Linked DNA regions of Homo sapiens. The protein of the gene in region 3 purifies or fractionates together with the protein of the main gene of each other region. This does not show direct contact. Each region holds a gene or a part of one and is shown on either strand. Other genes may lie near its edges.

Region 1 (3,500 bases), on a different chromosome or scaffold from region 3:
CCCAAGTGCTGCACATTCCAAGAGGCGCTCAGAAAAGGTTCTGAGGAAAGGTGGCATCTCAGAGGGCCTGGGGTTCCTGGGGCAGGAAGGGGTTTCTGGGGCAGGAAGGGGTGTCTGGTGCATGCAGCCAAGTGTAGGAAGCATCTCCCCGATGAGGAGGCAACACACTGGTTGCCTGAAGCTCGCTCTGTTGGTTCTCAAGACATGGGAACTTGTCCAAAGCATTCTAAACTTTTTGGTCTCATTGGCTTGAGGAAGGATATTACATCAACTCTTTCTAGCCAGTCAGTTTCATCCCAGGGAAGAGAGGTAGGGTGGTCAACTATCAGGAGAGGAGTGACCTGCCTGGGGGCAGGGGGAGTTCTCTCTAAAGAAAACTGTGGTTCCAAACCACTGTGCACTGAGTAGACCTTCTGTAGCCTGTGTGTGTTATCCCTGTTTAGGTATCATTTCTTCAAACTGTGGTGATAACGGGGGAAGCGCTTTGTAAAATTAGAAATATTATTATTGTTGAGTCTGCTGTCACAGCTCACTGTTGCTTCAGTTGGCTGATCGGGACGGTGTGGGAGGTGGAAGCAGTGCCCTCCCACAGGGAAACCCCTTCTCGTGTAGACTTAAGCCGCCTATGCTACCTGTGCGGACGCTTCCCATCTGGTTTGGATCTGTCTTTAGGATGAATGACTTCCGGGTCAGTGAGGCACTATTTTATCTAGTCATAAGAGGAGGAAATTATTTTTCCAAATTAATAGGGAACATGGGAGCAGGATGATCAGAGAATTGAAATACTGACTATAGCTTCATGTGTCCCATGTGTACCCCATGGGGTTCGGTTTCTATCTTGTTCTTTTTTTTTTCTTGGTTTTGTTTTAGTTTTATCTCTTTATTTATTTTGAGTCACAGCCAAACACACACAGATACACACACACACACACACACACACACACATTCCAAACTAAAAGCCAACAAACAATTGCTCAACTCAGGAGAGCAACCTATCAATTGATTGGGAAATAACCAGTTGCTCAGCTATTTTAATTGATGGAATTAAAAAATTAGCCTACTCAGGCATCTAACCCAACTGACAAATTTGGGTCAGTTTAAAGCCCGTGATGACAGATGGAAAGGCCCGGAATGGGGCTGGTGTTGGCTGTTTGGGGGAGAAAGGCCAGATGTTCGCACTCAGGGAGCCAGGGCAGGAGGCCCGGTGGAGACTGCTGTGACACAGGCATGCTGAGGTGGGAGGGTGCTGAGACCCCACCAGGCCAGGGTGTGGGCTGTGTCCCTTGGGGCGGGGGTGGGGGGGCGGGGAGGTGGTGGCAGTGCCACCTGATCAGCAGTATCTCATGGGGGAAGAAACCAAATTATCACCACCTCCCCCTCATTTAATAGATGAAGATACTGAAAGCCTGAAGGGTGAAGAGACTTGCATCAAAACACCTAACAAACACACAAGTTGGGGAGGACCGCTATCCAGACCTGGAATTCCATAATCCGTTCTTGTTTCTGAAACTTGACAATGTTTAGGGATCAGTGACTGAACATCACTGTAAAGCTGTGCGTGCCACAGAGTGTTCCCAGGATGGTGCTTTCTGTGGGTTCCTTCCCTGCTCCAGCCCTGCCCTGCCCGGCCTCCTCCAAGGCTCCTGCCAGGCTGCTGGTTTCACCGCTGCTGAGAATGTTTTCTCAGCTCAAGGGACATGTCTTAACTTCTCCACTCCTAGGCACTGGGAACTTGCGCCCACTCTGAATAGCAGAAGCTTCTATTTTTAATCCAGGCAGCCTTTGTAAACAGTGCAGCCCCCTAAACCCTGAAATGGACTCCTTCCTATTTTCTTTTGTTTATCTGAAGCATTCTTGGGAATTTTACTAATTTCTCTTCTACAATCTGTTTTCAGCAGCCCATAGAGCCCTTGTTCATCACCAGCTGTTATTAAGTTTTACCAAGAAGTGGTTTTTGGGGGTAGAAGGTGCTTAGAGAGCACCCAGGTTCAGAGAGGGAAGTGCTTTCTGGAATGTCACACAGCTACGAAGGCATGAGAGCAGAGCACAGAACTCCTGCCTACTTAGTAGTCCTGGCGTTTTAAAAAATATGTATCTGCCCGTATTTGTGAGGATGTTTTTGGCTTCAAGGAAGTGACCATGTAACTCAACGTCACTGGGGGTCCAGAGGCAAGGTGGGCTCTGGGTTCAGCTTTTTCCATGGACCCAGCCCCGGTTTCTCTTAAGAGCCCTTGGATGCATCCTCTTTGTGCTATGGCTTTGTCTTAGAGTCACTTCCCTCACGGGGCAAAGTTGCTGTTAGTCCCTGCCTGCCGTGCCTTCCTGCCCAGGACATCCCAGGAAAGAGACAGGCCAGCACCCCAACATTCCAACAAACAGTCTTGAAATCCTCCCTCATTGCACCCCTTAAGCCACATGCCCCTCCCTAAACAAGGATCAGGGCAGAAATTCCCGCCTGCACTGATTGGATTAGGTCTGGCTCCTGAACCAACCAGTAGCAGGAGAGTTGAGATGCCCCTGCACCAATCAGGCCCTCCCTTGGAGCTGGGAGGGGCTTGTGTCCCTGAGGCACATGGGCTGCCTGAGAGAAGAGTATATTATTGAAAAGAAGAAAAAGAAAGAGAAGATGAGGAGAAGAGGATAAGAGGAGAAGAAGGCGAGGAGGGGAAGAGGAGAAGAAAGAAGAAGAGGATCTATTGGGAAGCTGGGAGAATGGATGCTGAAGGAGCAATGAGCAGTATTCACTAGAATTTTCCAATACTATACTACAAACTCCTTGAAGACCTTTGTTGTGATCAAGGCTCTATCCACAGTGCTTGGCGTAGAAGGATTTGGACATGAAGAACCTGGGAACTGGGGACACTCCTAGGTACAGGCCCTGCCTGGTGTTCATTCATCTGCTTATTCAGCCAACCAGAAAGAGCCAGGCATGGGAGTTTAGCTGTGCAGACCCCGTTGGTGGCTGACCCAGTTCCCTTTTGCTGGTGCTGCTGTGAGGGTTGCCTGCTGACAGCTCACAACTGCCCTCCCCTCTCCAGAAAATTGTCCTTGGCTGATAAGACCTAACTGACCCAGTTATGCACCATGACCTGCATCCAGAGGACAGATCACAGCCACCAACTGACCGATTCTATCCAAAAGGCCAGCCTGGAGAGCCCTCCCACTGTGGACCAGGCCAAGGCTAGATGTCACCTTGGCTCCTTCCCTTTTCCATCCCACTTCCCTCACTTCCCTACAGGGAAGACAACTGCCTCAATACATAACATGCACCTAAATCCCCATCTCAGGTTCTGCTTCTAGGGAACCCAATCTAAGACAACCATGAAAAACCTTTACTGTGGACAGGCTGACTATTACCCACAGATTACAGACATGTAAGATATAAATTACAGGAAGAAAGCAGACTAAATGATATAACAGATGACCAAGCAAAGAAATCTGCCTTCGTTTTACATATAAATGGGTGTGACCATCACTGACAGTAGTATGTCCAACCAGAG
Region 2 (3,500 bases), on a different chromosome or scaffold from region 3:
TGTCTTTAGTTCATTTATTCTGTGACTGTTTTCAAAATTTCAATGTTAGGAAAGAGAATTGCCTGATAAATCTGGAAATATTTATAAATTACAATTTCCTGCTATATGTGGGTGCCATCTATGGCTTAGTCTAGAGCCACTAACGCTGTTCATTCTACAATGTTCTGTGAGATTTTGCTACTTTAAGTAAGTTCTATCATCACTTACATGGAGATAATTCTCAAATTTAAATCTCAGCTCTTTTTGCATACAAAGTTCTGTATCACATCATTATCATCTAAAGATATATATGACAAAGAGGGCTTCTTAATCCTTAAATCCCTTTATCACTCTTCCTCATCATAATAGAAATGGTCATTTGACAGAACTAGGTTTGGAATCCTAAAAGTCAGCATCCTAACTGTATTTTTTGTGTTAGTAAGTTCCAAAGAAACTTCAATTATACACACAATGAGACAGGCAAGCACATATCATTAAGCCTATATTACAGTGAACACATCAAGGTTCAGAAAAAGTTGTGACTCCTCCACAATCAGGTGACAAAATCAGTACCTATTCTAACTTCTGACTCTCTCCCAACCTGATGGTTCATGCAGATCACACAACTGTCAAAATTGGTTCCTAAATGATCACACATTCTTCCTGAAAGGCTTTTATTAAAAAGAAATCAGTAATTTAAAACCTCAGTGATTTCTGTTAAGCTTTTTTTAAGAGAAAAGAAAAACTGACATAAAGAAAACACTAATTGAAGGTATGTCAAAGTTTTAAAAATTAAATTATGGTCCAGGGAGAGGAAGGGGTGTCCTTGTAAAATATATTACTGGAACAACTCTCAAAATTTGAATATAAATAGTAATTCAGATAATAGTATTGTGTCAATGTTAAGTTTCCGGATTTTGATCATTGTAATACACTACATCAGAGAATGCCCTTGATCTTAGAATTACACGCTAAAGGATCTAGGGGAATAGGAGCATGACGTCTCTCATATGGTTCAGAATTAAAAATTATACACATATATAGAGTGAAAAAGCAAATGTGACAAAATGTTAAAAACTGCTAAATATGTGTGAAGGGTAGCCAGAAGTTCTCGTACTATTTTTGTACCTTTTCTGCAAGTTTAAAATTATTTCAAAATAGAGTTTAAAAAATTTTTTGAACCCTAGAATAGGTATTACAAGTTTATATTCACATAATAGAAAATACAGCTAAAAATAGTCTAATCTTACAGGATTTTCATGTGGCTCCTAGAAATATAACATCTTAAAAACTGAAGACAGTCTTTTCCCAATGCTAGTGGCAGGTAATTACCCAGCCTGTTATTTAAATATAAAATGTGGCTGGGCACGGTAGCTCACACCTGTAATCGCAGCACTTTAGGAGGCCGAGGCAGGCGGATCACTTGAGGTCAGGAGTTCGAGACCAGCCTGGCCAACATGGTGAAACTCTGTCTCTACGCAAAATACAAAAATGAACCAGATATGGTGGCACACGCCTGTGGTCCCAGCTACTTGGGAGGCTGAGGCAGGAGAATCGCTTGAGCCCAGGAGGTGGAGGTTGCAGTAAGCTGAGATCGCACCACTGCACTCCAGCCTGGGCAACAGAGCGAGACTCTGTCTCAAAAAAAAATAAATATAAAACAAAAACTCACTTGACCATGTGGAGTAAGTTCTTAGTCAGTTACACCTGGTTTAGATCCTAAACAAAGAGATGTTTATTTATAAAATTCAGACTACGCATTATTTCCTCCACAGATAATACTCCATTGAGCAACACCCGTGGTAAAGTCCAGCAAGAGAATAACAGTAACAACAAAAAAAGAAATACTTTAAGTGAAATATCCCATATATTCTGAGAGAGACGTTTCAGAGAATAGCCTCAATTGCTTTGAGAGCTAGAAAATAAATATGATTGAAATCAAATCATGGAAACAGGCAAAAGAAAGTTCTTATTTGGTAACACTTTTAAGGAAGCTTCTCCACTTGATGATAAATCAGAGAAGTCGGCAGAATGCAAAGAACACTACTCATACCTAGCTTGTGACGTATCTGCTTCAACTACCTTTGACTTTACCACAGTCAAATCGCCATTGACATCAATGAGAAGAAGGGTAATTTATTCCTATTCTAACAAACATCCTTCATCACTTTAAACTCTATATAAAACTCACTTTCTCCTTGAAGCTTGTTTGGTCCTTTCATTTTTTTAAAAAAATATGCTAAATTCCAAAACAGAACAACACAATCAATTATAAATAACAAGGGGTAGTTCACAGTAAAACATAATAAGAGACTAATTTAAGTTTTCTTTATACAACTTTAAAAGTAAAAAACATAATTTAGAAAATGTCAGGACATATTACAACTCAAAATAATGATCATTTATTCCAGTAATGTTGCCTTTGTTAAAAACATTCTTGGAAGTTTTCTCAAAATGTTTCCAGTGTCAAGTAAAAAGTCCTATTAATTTAGAGTCACATCTCTTGGGGGAAAATGTGGATTCACTCGCCTAGTTCTCTTTATCCATCTTATCTACCAGACTTGACATCTTATTAACCTGCAGTCATTAAAAAGCACTATTTCCACTCAGGATGTTCACAAATTGGCCATATAATCTCTGAAGGTAATTACAAAAATGTTCTCATCCTTTCTAATTTCATATTAGTTTTTTATTTTGCTACTGTAGCTTTGAGTCATATATTTAAACATGATTTTAAATTTATTGAGAGTCTAAAACCTGTAATTTCTTGCTGAAAAAAATTCTCCTTTTCCAATTCTATCACCTGAGTTTAATTTATTTTCCTGTCTCTCTCGTTTACATCCAAGTAGCTCAAAGTTCTATTCATGCTTACTTCCCCAAACAAGTCTCAGCATATCAGAAGAAAACAATGAACAACAGGTTAGGAAGGGAAAATGATGAAAACCACAAAGGAATAAAGAAACTTTTTGAGAGAGAGAGAGACAGAGAGTGAGAACACCACAAGAACATATGTAAACATATGCATGTACATGTTCACACATGCATGTGCACACACACAACATATCATCACTTTTAAAGCTAGTTCTCAGATTAAAACAAGAGTATATGTATGTCGTATTCTTCATCAACTGCAACCTAAACTGTGATTGTCTAGATTATGGCTAACGACAGAAAGCAATGGTTAAGAAAGCCAAAAACCAAAAAAGAGTCTGTAATATCTTCTTCATAACCTGAAAAAGCACTTATTTCCTGACTTCCTGCATCCAATAAGAAGCTTCAGGTTTGGAATTCTGAGTGCCACAACATGATCTGTATTGAGCTGTACCAAATCATACTATTAATATAAAATTAAGTTGATTTAAAATATGAAATTACGAGAAATGAAAAATAGAATTTCCTATTCAGAATAAATATGGCTTTCTTCAAATAGAATTGAAAATTAATCATTTAGTATAAAATAAAACTTGACCCATAACAGCTCAAATGCTATTTCAAACAGTATAGTTATAAATGTACATAAA
Region 3 (5,738 bases):
TCCAAGTCAAATATGTGTTTTTAAGAGCCAATAATATGGGTTTTAGTAAATTCTAAAATCACATGGTAAAATCAATGTCTTATGAGTGTCAACAACAGAATGATTGGTGTTAAAATCCTAACTCTTTAGTGAGCATATGAACACAGTCATCAATCTATAAATTAAGAAATGGCTGTGTATTTTAGTTCAAATAGTTTCCTATTTAGGCACATTTAATACTTTGTTATTTATTTTAAATTTTGAAAACTTAGCTTAGTCCTGAATGAAGTATTTTCTGGTTTACGAGGACTGCAAATCATTACCAGAAAGTGAATTGAGCAATATTTCCCTTTATAATTTAAAACTATGACTTTCAAATAAACAATTATCTAAAAACACTTATGCTATTAGATAGCATATTCTTGAAATGCGTGCAAAATCAACAACCATTTATTCTCCTCTTCCCTGTTTTAAAGACATTTTTATTGGGTTGAGAGTGTTTCAGGATATAAAGCAGTTTGCCAAATTCTGTCACCCTTTTTTTTAATGTCATAAAGGGTGTGGTGCCTGTAGAGAAGTTTTGAAAGTTGTACTTTATGATGTTTTTGCCTTCACTTTTTAAAAAAATGGTAAGATAATCTAAGTCCTGTCCGTATATTCTGGTTCCTAGTATAGGCTTCAGGGTGCACTCACTATGAAAAGTCAGAATATTTCCTGTAGCCAGTTTTACTTACTTCCTTGCCAGGAGTGTTTAGGTTCTTTTTTTTTTTTTTTTCTTTTTTGAGATGGAGTCTCACTCTGTCGCCCGGGGCTGGAGTGCAATGGCGTGATCTCGGCTCACTGCAACCTCCGCCTCCCGGGTTCACGCGATACTTCTGCCTCAGCTTCCCGAGTACCCGGGATTACAGACGCACACCGCAACACCTGGCTAATTTTTTGTATTTTTAGTCGAGGCGGGGTTTCACCATCTTGGCCAGACTGGTTTCGAACTCCTGACCTCGTGATCCGCCCGCCTCGGCCTCCAAAAGTGCTGGGATTACAGGCGTGGGCCATCGCGCCCACCCGTGTTTAGATTCTTAACAGCTCATTATTAGAAATAAAGTCTCGATAAGAACTACTTTAATACTTAATTTTCTTGCTTAGAAAGGTGAAAACAATTTAGAAGGAACAACGTGAGGCATCAAAGTTAAGCTGTATCTCCCATAGCTGGTGATTATTAAAAATCTCTATGAATCTAGTCTGTTCCTGTCATTCTTTTATTAATCCCTGGTTATTGGGAAGCTCTTAACAAAATAAATGTTTAAAATTATATTTCTGTAATTAAGTAAAAGAGAGTATTGATTCCACAAGGCTAGAATTGTTCGTCTAAGAAAAACGAATTCTCCGTAAATTTTAACCCGTTAATACCACAGAAAGATGCTGTTGGAAAGGTCTAAGAACAGAGAGATGCAAGCAGAGAAACACCATTTTCAGAACATGACATGGGATGGTGAGATTTGCTGATTTGGTTCCGTCTTCATTATCTGACATTTAATGACAGTTCACACAGAAATCGCTCGCCTGAAAACCCGTGTTTAAATCCCGGCACAGAGACTGTCTTCCTTGTCATTGTCATACCAGTAAAAAAAAGAAAAGTATCTAGAGAGAGAGAGAGGAGAATAAGCACAGAAGTTAAAATACAATAAAATCCCTTTTCCCTTTCTTTCCTTGGATCTGGGTTTTGAAGGAGACAAAGAAGGACCCCCAGGCTTTCCAGCAGCCAGCAAGCGCTATTACTTTTTATTTAAAAGCAACTGGGAAAAACATTCCCCAAAGCAAAACCAGAAGCCCTCCCTGAGAATCGTCTCTGGGCGTCGGGGCCCGGGCCGCTGGGGTGCCACTCCGCAAGGGGTTCCTCTTCTCCCCGGGGTCCCTGAGGGCTGGACGAGAGAGGACCCGTCGGTCCCGGGGTGCCGGGAGGAGACGTTCGCCCGCCCCACGAGAGGGGGCGGCTCTGGCCTCGGAGCCGCCCCTCCTGCCGCCGGAGAACAAACGGGATATTCAGCAGTGGCCTGTGGCTGCCAGAGCAGCTCCTCAGGGGAAACTAAGCGTCGAGTCAGACGGCACCATAATCGCCTTTAAAAGTGCCTCCGCCCTGCCGGCCGCGTATCCCCCGGCTACCTGGGCCGCCCCGCGGCGGTGCGCGCGTGAGAGGGAGCGCGCGGGCAGCCGAGCGCCGGTGTGAGCCAGCGCTGCTGCCAGTGTGAGCGGCGGTGTGAGCGCGGTGGGTGCGGAGGGGCGTGTGTGCCGGCGCGCGCGCCGTGGGGTGCAAACCCCGAGCGTCTACGCTGCCATGAGGGGCGCGAACGCCTGGGCGCCACTCTGCCTGCTGCTGGCTGCCGCCACCCAGCTCTCGCGGCAGCAGTCCCCAGAGAGGTAACGCGACCCCTGCCCGGGCTCCCTTTCTCTCCTTTCCCTTCCTCCACCCCTGCAGCCTCGCCTGCTGCTTTACTCAACCCGCTTCGGCGCGCCTGGGTGACCCAGCGCTCGACCCTGCGCTCCCGCGCGGTGCAGGCGTCCGCCACCCTCGGGTAGGCTAAGCCCGGGACTTCGGGACCCATCCTTGCTCGCGGGGCTCCCTCCTGGGTCCCCAGCCCGGCCTGCCGGATGGCCCTGCAGCTGGCTTGGCCACCACGTGGCGGGGCTTAATCTGACTTGTGTCTCCCCTCTCCTCGTGTCTATGGGGCCAGAGGGAAGCACTGGGGCCCAAATATGTGGATTTTGGTTTACCGCTGTTTTTTTTCCTTCCCCGAGAGGCTTTGCCCAGAGACGTAAACTAGGGAACAACCCTAGCGGCGCGGCGCCTAGGGAGCCGCTCCGGAAAGTTAACTCTTCGCCAACCTCTGGAAGGCCCCAGGAGCTGGGCTGTGGGACCTGCCCGGTGGCCAACTTTGGCATCACCTCTTCAGCCTCCATCAACATCAGCCTCCCTTTCGATGGGAAGCTCTGCCAATGGCGAGTGATTTTCAGAAAGGGGGAGGAGAACTGGGCATCTCTCCAAATATGGGAACGACAAACTTTTTTTATATTAACCAATTGCTTGCCTGTCTTTCTTTAAAACCATGCTTCTCATTCAGCCTGGCTCTTACCTTCTCTCCCACTCCCCCAGTTAAATTGATGTATTTACCATTTTCCTACAAGACTTTGCCACAATGCCGAGGACTTGATTATACATATATATAATCTTGTGTTATTATGATGGAGACAGATGGCGCTGGACTGAATGCTTTGTCAGGCTATAATTTAAATATTCTAGGAGCTAGCAAATTTTCAGATCCCTTATATGGTGCAAGCATTGATTAATCAACATTAACTTTTATTTATATTAATAGGCTACACCTTTCTGAAGGTAACATCAGATTGTTAGACCATGTTTCAAATTACATTATCTTTTCTTCTTTTATGTTCCCAGACCTGTTTTCACATGTGGTGGCATTCTTACTGGAGAGTCTGGATTTATTGGCAGTGAAGGTTTTCCTGGAGTGTACCCTCCAAATAGCAAATGTACTTGGAAAATCACAGTAAGCATTTTTTAAAAAGGTATTCTCCTGGAAGTGGGTGTTGGCAACAGTGTGAGGCTGCTGCCTTTTTCCTCTGGTGTTAGGATTTGAGTAAGAGGCAAATGCCTGAAATAGTGAAATGTTGGATTTACCCCAACTATTGGGAAGATTTTTATTAATATAATAGATCTAGTCGTGTCCTGCATTAGTGATTACAAAGGGCACAAGATAATGCTTGAAGGAATAAATTCTCAGAGCAGATGTGTTTCTGAAAGCCCAGTGTGACTCAGTTGAGTTTTATAGATTCATAATTAAAGCTGTTTTCAGTCAAAGGCCTGTTGTAATGACCTTCATAAGTTTTTTGTTGCTCGTGCCTTCATAAATTCCCAGTGGGAAATGGAAGATCAAAGATAGTGCTTTGACTACTCTATGCTCATTAGGAAAGGAAAAAGAAAAAAAATAAAAAAAGCCCACTTAATGTTCCTGGGTTGAAACCACCTCTAAAGGCAGTCTAAGAATAGAGAATGGGGGGGTGGGAATCTAAATAGCAGCCAAGGGCCAATAAAAAGTCCATGCTGATTAGTAATAACATAGATTATGCTGAGTCAAGATAAGCTGGATTTAGAGACAGCCATATATTTTTTAACTGATTTAGAGTCAACTAGAGTGAGTCATCTTTCCAGTCAGCATAGCATTGACTGTTACCTTCTTCACTTTTTCGTTGTTGGGAAGTTGTTTAGTAATTGAATACGTTGGTTCACTGAGAGCTTCTTTCAGTCAGATTGTGCCACTGGAGGACTTAGATTTTTTAAAAAGTAGCCCCCACTGAATGTGTAAACTAGCAGTTACTGTGTGCCAGGCATTTACCATGCCAAGTAGTTAGCAAGTATAATCACCCAGAATCCTCAAAACAACTGTATGAGAAAGTATCTATTATCATCCCTATTTTATAGATGGGGAAGCTGAGGCCTGAAACAATTATAGAAATTGACTTGATCAGACAGTCGGGAAGCCCAACTTTATGTAAAAGTAAAACCTACTTTGCAATAAGGTATTCCCACTGAGGTCATTTTGCAGGCAGATATGAGAGGTCCCCTTCCATAATATAAAACTCAGCTCTTACATGCCTTGACGGCCTCTTGTAAAATGCCAACCATGTCACAAACTGGTACAGATTTCATTATGTTATTATAGCACATGTGGCCAGGAAAGAAGTCATAGAAAATAAGTTTGAAATACTATTAACATAAATGTCAAATAAGTCTCTGAAACAAAAATAAAAGCAGCTTGATTTTCATGTCGTGATTGTGTTTTAAATGTAATTAAATGGCCATAAGTTTTAAACGACCCTAGAAAATCAATGGCTCAGAGGCGTCATGTGCCCAAGTAGAAATTCATGGTTGGCCATGTGTTCTGAGTATTGCGGACAGGTTGATGTGACTTTACACTTTGACTGGGGTTGGGGGGCACGTCCAGTGAAAGCTTTCCTTGATAAAGGAACGGTTTGCCTCAGGAGAGGCATGATTTCCTGTGTGGGAGTGGGGAAGTTAAATGGATGCTCCATCTGGATGTCCTGTGAAGGGAAAGCCTGTGAGCTCAGCAGTCACTTCCCTGGATTCAAATTCCAGTTTCACCGCCATAAACTGTGTGTCCAGGATCTACCTCCTTTAAACCTTAGGATTACTGTGAAGACAAAATGAGATAGTGTAAAATGCTTCAACTCAGTGCCTGAGTGGGAAGAAGCTTGATTTGTCTGAAGAACAAATTAAGGAGGTTGGAGTGGCTGGAATGGAATGAGCAAGGGGACAGTGGGAAGAGAAGCGAAGAAGGTAAACAGGACTCTGTAGGCCACGGTGGAGAGTTTGAATTTTGTTTTGAGTAGGAGTCACTGGAAGATCTTAAGCAGAGGAATGAGCTTATCTGGTGTCTGCGTGGAAGATGAACTGTAGGGAGTTAAGAGTAGAGGCAGAGAGACCAATTAGGAAGCTGTTGTGGTATCCAGGAGAGGGAAGATGGTGGAGTAGACAAGGTGGTAGCAGAGAAGATGAAGAAATGCGGAGTCTTCTGCCCACAGTGTTTTCTCAGCAGCTCTGCCTGCGGTTAGGATATAGTGGCACCAGCTAGAAGGATACATGCACCAGGCTCTGTCTCCCTGCTTAGCCATTCCAGACAGGACTGTGCTCTACTATGGCCTTGTCCAAGGCCATCTATTAAAGGTTT

The links. Proteins that work in one complex are often made in the same cells at the same time.
Region 1: the proteins of PCOLCE2 (region 3) and SERPINA12 purify together in Homo sapiens (affinity purification with mass spectrometry; one large-scale study listed by BioGRID and IntAct). This does not show direct contact.
Region 2: the proteins of PCOLCE2 (region 3) and STRN purify together in Homo sapiens (affinity purification with mass spectrometry, with the first as the bait; one large-scale study listed by BioGRID). This does not show direct contact.

What each region holds. Positions count from the first base shown.
Region 1 is NC_000014.9:94,499,470-94,502,969, reverse strand, and holds part of SERPINA12 (serpin A12 precursor), read left to right. Parts: intron 1-3,500. UniProt on the Homo sapiens protein: Adipokine that modulates insulin action by specifically inhibiting its target protease KLK7 in white adipose tissues.
Region 2 is NC_000002.12:36,851,537-36,855,036, forward strand, and holds part of STRN (striatin), read right to left. Parts: intron 1-3,500. UniProt on the Homo sapiens protein: Calmodulin-binding scaffolding protein which is the center of the striatin-interacting phosphatase and kinase (STRIPAK) complexes.
Region 3 is NC_000003.12:142,885,470-142,891,207, reverse strand, and holds the start of PCOLCE2 (procollagen C-endopeptidase enhancer 2 precursor), read left to right. Parts: upstream 1-2,124; 5' UTR 2,125-2,311; coding exon 2,312-2,394; intron 2,395-2,748; exon of another isoform or gene 2,749-2,944; intron 2,945-3,430; coding exon 3,431-3,539; intron 3,540-5,738. UniProt on the Homo sapiens protein: Binds to the C-terminal propeptide of types I and II procollagens and may enhance the cleavage of that propeptide by BMP1.